Linked DNA regions of Homo sapiens. The protein of the gene in region 1 interacts with the protein of each later gene in a pairwise test. Each region holds a gene or a part of one and is shown in the gene's direction. Other genes may lie near its edges.

What was found.
Region 2: the proteins of ECI2 (region 1) and TNPO3 interact in binary tests that used the Homo sapiens proteins (3 or more experiments, as listed by UniProt).

The regions. Positions count from the first base shown.
Region 1 is NC_000006.12:4,129,076-4,132,575, reverse strand, and holds part of ECI2 (enoyl-CoA delta isomerase 2), read left to right. Parts: intron 1-1,710; coding exon 1,711-1,809; intron 1,810-1,810; exon of another isoform or gene 1,811-2,015; coding exon 2,016-2,204; intron 2,205-2,214; exon of another isoform or gene 2,215-2,434; intron 2,435-3,500. UniProt on the Homo sapiens protein: Able to isomerize both 3-cis and 3-trans double bonds into the 2-trans form in a range of enoyl-CoA species. Has a preference for 3-trans substrates.
Region 2 is NC_000007.14:128,968,112-128,971,611, reverse strand, and holds part of TNPO3 (transportin-3), read left to right. Parts: intron 1-1,296; coding exon 1,297-1,464; intron 1,465-3,500. UniProt on the Homo sapiens protein: Importin, which transports target proteins into the nucleus. Specifically mediates the nuclear import of splicing factor serine/arginine (SR) proteins, such as RBM4, SFRS1 and SFRS2, by recognizing phosphorylated SR domains.

The DNA.
Region 1 (3,500 bases):
TATCTATTTTTCTGTCCTATGATGGGTATGAGCTTCTCTTTCATATGGGTGTGTATAGTAAAAAATTTAACCTTGCCCCAGAAGAGGTGTGGCTTTGCCCTCAGCTTCTGGGAAGTGAATCTCTAATGACTGGTAGGAGTCTTTATTTGCCTGGATTGTCTTAACGATGTGATTTAGGGTGGGGGCTTCAGGTTATACAGTCATGCACAGGTGATGGAGCCCTGTTAAAAACTCTGGACACCGAGACTGGATGAGCTGAGCATCTCTGGTTGGCAGGACTCCCTGTGTACTGTCACATCAATTCTGGTAGAGGTGCCCTATGCTGACTCCATGGGGAAAGGACAATGGAAACTCCACATTTGCTACTGCCCCAGACTCCATCCTGTGTGTGTCCTCCCTTGGATGATTCTAATCTCTATCCTTTCCCTTAATAAACTATTAATTGTGCGTTTAACAGCTTGCAGTGAGTTCTGGGTGTCTTTCTAGCAAATTGTTGCACTTGAGGGTGGTCCTGGGTGCCCTCCAGCCTTGCAATTGGTGTTAGCATTGAGGACAGTCAGGAGACAAAGGCAAGCCCTTATCCTGTGGACTGTGTTCCCTCTAACTTCTAGGTTGGCCAACTCTTGCCAGATGACACTATCTCTGTCTAAAGAAATTCATAACCTCCTTTACTGCCTTTTTCTTTTTTCTTTTTTCTTTTGTTTTTATTTTGTTTTTTTGAGACAGAGTTTTGCTCTGTCACGCAGGGTAGAGTGCAGCGGCACCATCTCAGCTCACTGCAACCTCTGCCTCCCAGGTTCAGGCAATCCTTCTGCCTCAGCCTCCCAAGCAGCTGGAATTACAGGAACCTGCCACCATGCCTGGCTAATTTTTGTATTTTTAGTAGAGATGGGGTTTTACCATATTGGTCAGGCTGGTCTCGAACTCCTGACCTCAGGTGATCCACCCACCTCAGCCTCCCAAAGTGCTGAGATTACAGGTGTGAGCCACCACACCTGGCTTGTTTTTCAAAGACTCTTTCTTCTTTCCTCTCTAACTGTATTATAAAATTTTAAAAATTTTAACTGGAATTTTAAATTGCTATTTCTGAAAAGTAGCTGAGTGGGATATTTTATTCATCTCAAAACACCCACTCCACCTAGCCTCAAAAATAAAATTTAATTCCTTTTTGCTTTTTACTTACATGTTCTTCAGTTAGGTTTCCTAAGAACCAGTAGCTCTGATAGCCCCACCCTAGCCCCTCAGCTACAGTTTTGTTACCCAGGTACCAAAAGTCCACCACTGAATTAGTGGTGTTTTTTTTTGTACCTTCAGATGGGCTTTTGGAATATGCTGTGGGTTTTCAAGTATTTGTTGACTAGTTCCTTGTAAAGATTGTTTGCTTGAATATTTTGATTGTTTGTGGAAAATGTGATTACCAATATAAAACTAATGAACCATTAGATTTTTTTAGAAAATACTTCCCCAAAACCTTTATCCTGCATTATTTTCATAGACAGGCAGTTATAATTTATTTCCAGTCTTTTTTCTGTTTGTGCATTTTTGGCAACAACATCAAAGAGACTGGAGGGGAAAATTCAGATCAATTTACATACCCTGTGAAAGGATTTGGGGGAGGCATTCATGTACTTACAGATTTTATGGATCTTAAATATTTAGGGGTCTAGTTTACATGGACATTTGAACATATTGCCCCTCTCCTTTTCACAGGCCACTGAAGGACCTTGTAACATGCCCAAACCAGGTGTATTTGACTTGATCAACAAGGCCAAATGGGACGCATGGAATGCCCTTGGCAGCCTGCCCAAGGTGAGTTTACTAGTTACTGTGCTTTTATTTGCTGTACTTCTAAAGAAGTTTGTGCTTCTCATTAAGCCATTGTAAATGGAGTCTTCAAGATCTTGATGTGCTTCTATTCTTTCTTCATTGCAAGGTGTTAGTTATTAGTATAGTAACTTTCTCAAAGTGCTTATTCATTGACCATGGGCTGAGGTTGTTTGTCATCGTCCGTTCAGGAAGCTGCCAGGCAGAACTATGTGGATTTGGTGTCCAGTTTGAGTCCTTCATTGGAATCCTCTAGTCAGGTGGAGCCTGGAACAGACAGGAAATCAACTGGGTTTGAAACTCTGGTGGTGACCTCCGAAGATGGCATCACAAAGATCATGTTCAACCGGCCCAAAAAGAAAAATGCCATAAACACTGAGGTAATGTTACCTGCCCACGGAGTTTGTCCTGTTTTACTTTCTTCTTCTATGTGTTTCACACAAAAGCTGTAGAGTTTCAGCATCATTCCTATTTTAAGATATCTCTTGTTTGATTTGTGCAGGAAGGTTGGTAATTGTGGCTACTTCATACAACAGAGTTGAGCATTCATTGTTTAGAGTTTGTGAATTTCAGGTAGGTTCTGATATACCCAGAAGGCACTGTGATTTTCCTAATAATGGAAGCAGAAATAAATGAATATAAATGAAACATGTTGCTATGAGAGAATTTGCATAGAAGCCATCTAAGGTTGGTGTAGACTGCTCCCAGAAGTATCTTCATGTCACTTAGACATGAAAGTAAGTCTTTCTGCTTGCACGGGGGCTTCATTTTTTATAAGTATAGGGAGAAAGGAGAGAAGGACTTCATCTTAAACAAATTATCACCCAGCTCCGCTTTAAAGTAGCTGCTTCACTCGGTAACGTTAGTCTTTGAATCTCTCACTGAACTAGAATGATAATAAAATAACTACCTTAGCCCCTTCTTCTTGAAAAAAATTATAGGGAATTAATTGGATGCTTGGTGCTCAACTGGGACTAAAATTTCAGAGGACTATGACCATTGGGTCAATAACCTCCATTGTGGCAGAAAGAGCATACTCACTTTAAAATCATCTTCAGAATTTCATGAAGTAGGATATGTGTCATTCAACTAATAAAGCATTTAATGCTCAAACTTTATTTCCACTTTCCCCTGACTCATTTCTCTACAACTATAATAATAATAGCTACTCTGTACAGAGTGTCTAATGAGTGCCAGCACTCTCCACACAGAAGTTTATTTAATTCTCACAGGGAGCCTACTGTTATCATTACTTAACAATAAAATAATTAGATTAAGAAGTAACTTACTCAAGTTCACATAACAAATAAGCAGCAAAACCTAAATTGAAACCCTGATAGCCAGTCGTGGTGGCTCACCCCTGTAATCCCAGCACTTTGGGAGGCCAAGGTGGGCAGATCACTTGAGGTCAGGAGTTCAAGACCAGCCTGGCCAACATGGTGAAACTCCATCTCTACTAAAGATACAAAAAATTAGCTGGGCATGGTGGTGCGCACCTATAGTCCCAGCTACTCAGGAGGCTGGGGCAGGAGAATCTTTTGAACCGGGGAGGTGGAGGTTGAGCCAAGATCATGCTATTGCACTCTAGCCTGGGCCTCGCAATGAGACTCCATCTCAAAAAAGAAGGAAGGAAGGAAGGGAGGAAGGGAGGGAGGGAGGGAGAAACCCTGATAATC
Region 2 (3,500 bases), on another chromosome or scaffold:
CAGGGGAGAGCAGTGAAGAAGTAAGTATTCTGCATTCTATTTAGGCTATTCATTTAAGAAGTTTGGCAGTAAAAGAGAGAAGAAAATAACTAGAAGGGAAAGGCAATTTAAAAAATATTTTTCTCAAGGTATTAGAAATACATGTGTATTTAAAGACCACAAGAAGGGCCAGGCGCAGTGGCTCACGCCTGTAATCCCAGCACTTTGGGAGGCCAAGGCGTGCAGATCACTTGAGGTCAGGAGTTCAAGACCAGCCTGGCCAACATGGTGAAACCCTGTCTCTACTAAAAATACAAAAATTAGCCAAGTGTGGTAGTGTATGCCTGTAATCCCAGTTTCTAGGGAGGCTGAGGCAGGAGAATTGCTTGAACCCAGGGGATGGAGGTTTCAGTTAGCTAAGATCAGGCCACTGCACTCCAGCCTGGGTGACAGAGCAAGACGCTGTCTCAGAAAAAAAAAAATTAAAGACCGCAAGAAGAAAAAAAGGGTTTTTTTTTTTTCGATAGAAAAAATTAGATCTCTGATAGACGTCTTCAATTCTAATTTCAGTTGGTTTTGTTTTGTTTTGTTTTGTTGTGACTTGGGGTTCCGGCTGTGTTACCCAGACAGACTGTAGTGGCCATTCACAGGCGAGATCCCACTACAGATCAGAATGGAATTTTGACCCACTCTGTTTCTGACTTGGGCTGTTCACCCCTCCCTCCTTAGGCAACCCAGGAGTGGTTCCTCACTCCTGGGAGGTCACCACATTGATGCTGAACTTAGTACAGGCACCCAATTGGTATAGCATGCTCTAGCCCAGAACACTGGGTTCAAGCTGTTCCCCTACCTGCGCCTTTGGAGTGGCTGGGACTATGGTGTGTGCTGCCATGCCAGGCTGACTTAGTTTTTAAAAAAGGAAATAGGAACACAAGTTATTTTTCACATTAAAAAAAAATTAATACCATCACATAGAAGATGAAGAGAAAAAAATTTTAAAAATTGCTAACTTTAATTCTTAACCATGTTTTCTGCCTTCAAATCATGAAAAATCTAAGCATTAATCTCTGTTGAAACCCATGTTCATTCCTTGGATACTAATAAACTCCTTCATTTTCTTTCTAAAGACAAAAAACTTCTGGACTTTGTGAATCCAGCTGTCATTTTACACACACCTGCATACACACACACACAGCCACGCGTGCACACACACACACACTTTCCTATTAAAGAGAAATTACTAAAGGGGAAAGAGTGCTTGGTCTTTGGGAAGTTGAGACTAGAATTTATCTGATGTTCCTGCTTTCCTACATACAGCATGAAGAAGACTTTGAATTACGGAAAGAACTGATTGGACAGGTGATGAACCAGCTTGGACAGCAGCTTGTCAGCCAGCTGCTGCACACCTGCTGCTTTTGCCTCCCCCCCTATACCCTACCAGATGTGGCTGAAGTGCTCTGGGAGATCATGCAGGTTGACAGACCGGTAAGATTGTTTTCATGAGGAATTTATCTCATAGTCCCTAAATGTAATAGGCTTTGGTTCCTTAAGGCCAACCCTAATTTTGAAACTAGCCCTGTTTTCTGTCCATGGAACCAAATTTAGGCATATTGCCAAATTAGATTGGTAGATGAAGAGGCCCGTAAAGATCAGTAATTTATTATTGAGTTCTTTAAAGCATGTTTCTATGTCACTGTCATAGGGGGTATATTACCAGAAGTAAGTATCAAGCATTGAATTCAGTTGTGTGGCTGTCCAATGTGAAATTTGTTCACTTGTGAGAGATGCCCAAATGTCAGTTATATTAGTTACGTATTACTCAAGAAGTATTTAATCCTTTCAGACTTATTCTATAGCACTGTATTATTTCTTGGTGATACATCTAGCCAGAACATTTGGAAGCACATAATTGTCAAAGTAACCCACAATGTACAGTTGGATATATTTCCCCTTTGGATTTCTTTGAACCAGATCCTTTATCACCCACCTAAGGATGGAGTTGTTTTTTTAAAGCTATCTAATAATGCCCAAGTAATTTCAGTACTGGGCCACATGACCATAACTCAGGTTATGTGTACTGTGTGAAAGTTGAGTAGAATGGTAAAGTATAATATAACCTGAAATCATTTTTAAAATGGAATTTATAATTTTTAATATTACTGTAAAAGCAGTTCAGGAAAGTACTCATTGGGACCTAGTTAAAGTGAGCTGTCTTACAGAACCACAGAATATAAAATTGATAATAATAATATATAACAGATAGTACCTATTCCTCTCTGGTTCAATACACATGTTCCATTTCAACCTGATAGAGTAGCATATTTGTTTTTCTAAAGAAAAGTACTTTTTGAGCCTCCAGGAATCAGCAAATTTAATTCAAAAGTCCTTGACCTGAGGGAAAAAGTCTTCATACTCTGCTTAAACTTTTTTACAAATACATTTGGTTCCCAAGTAACAGAAAACTTATGTAAATCTAACTTTATGAAAACATTCTTGATTGTAAGCATATTGTTAAGTGCGAACAACAACAACAAAAAATGAGAACAAGAAGTTTGGACAGGAATAGAAACCAGGTAGCCATGTACTCTAAGGAGTGTACTGTATATCAGCCAGACACAATGGCTCATGCCTGTCTTCCCAATACTTTGGGAGACCAAGGCAGGAGGATCACTTGACGCCAGGAGCTTGAGACTACCAGCCTGGGCAACATAGACCCCATCCCTACAAAAAAAAAAAAAATTTTTTTTCTTTTTAATTAGCTGGGTGTGGTGGCATACATCTATAGTCCCAGCTACTCAGGAGGGTGAGGTAGGAGGATTGCTTAAGCCCAGGAGTTCCAGCCTGCAGTGAGCTATGATCATGCCACTGCACTCCAGTCTGAGCTGCATAGCAAGACCCTGTCTCAAAAAAGAAAAAGTTTGCTATATAACAACTATTATGTATTTTTAAGAATTAAGGAGCTGTTATGTATCCATAATTAAGAAATGCTTAGTACTTCATGAGCATTTATAATACTTTTGCTCTGGCCTATTATGGCCATAAATGAATATGATGGGAAAATATATAATGTAAAAAAAATTAGGTATAAAAGAGTAATTTTACAGCCCAAAACTATGACTGAAGTATACATTCCACTTAAGAAAGGGATGAAGAAATATTAGTGCTGACCCAAAGGACAACAATTAAACTGAAAATAAGAACCCAGAGGAAGTCTGTAGAATTTTTATTTTAGAAAGGAAGGAAGTAAAGGGAGTAGACAATTTTTGTGCATAGAAAAGGCATAAAGAGAATTCTTAGATATACTTATATAAAAAATATATAAGTAAATTAAACAGCAACAAGAGCAAGGTTTTTTAACACAAAGAACAGGCAGATATCACAAAGGAACTGAATGGATAGGACTTATTCTGAGAGAGATGGCCTTAAAATCCTTAAGATTCTGGACTCATATGTCTCATATGTATACTTTCTGACATGGTGGCTTAGTATACTTTTTGCCCCTGCTCTTTCAGGTATCTGAA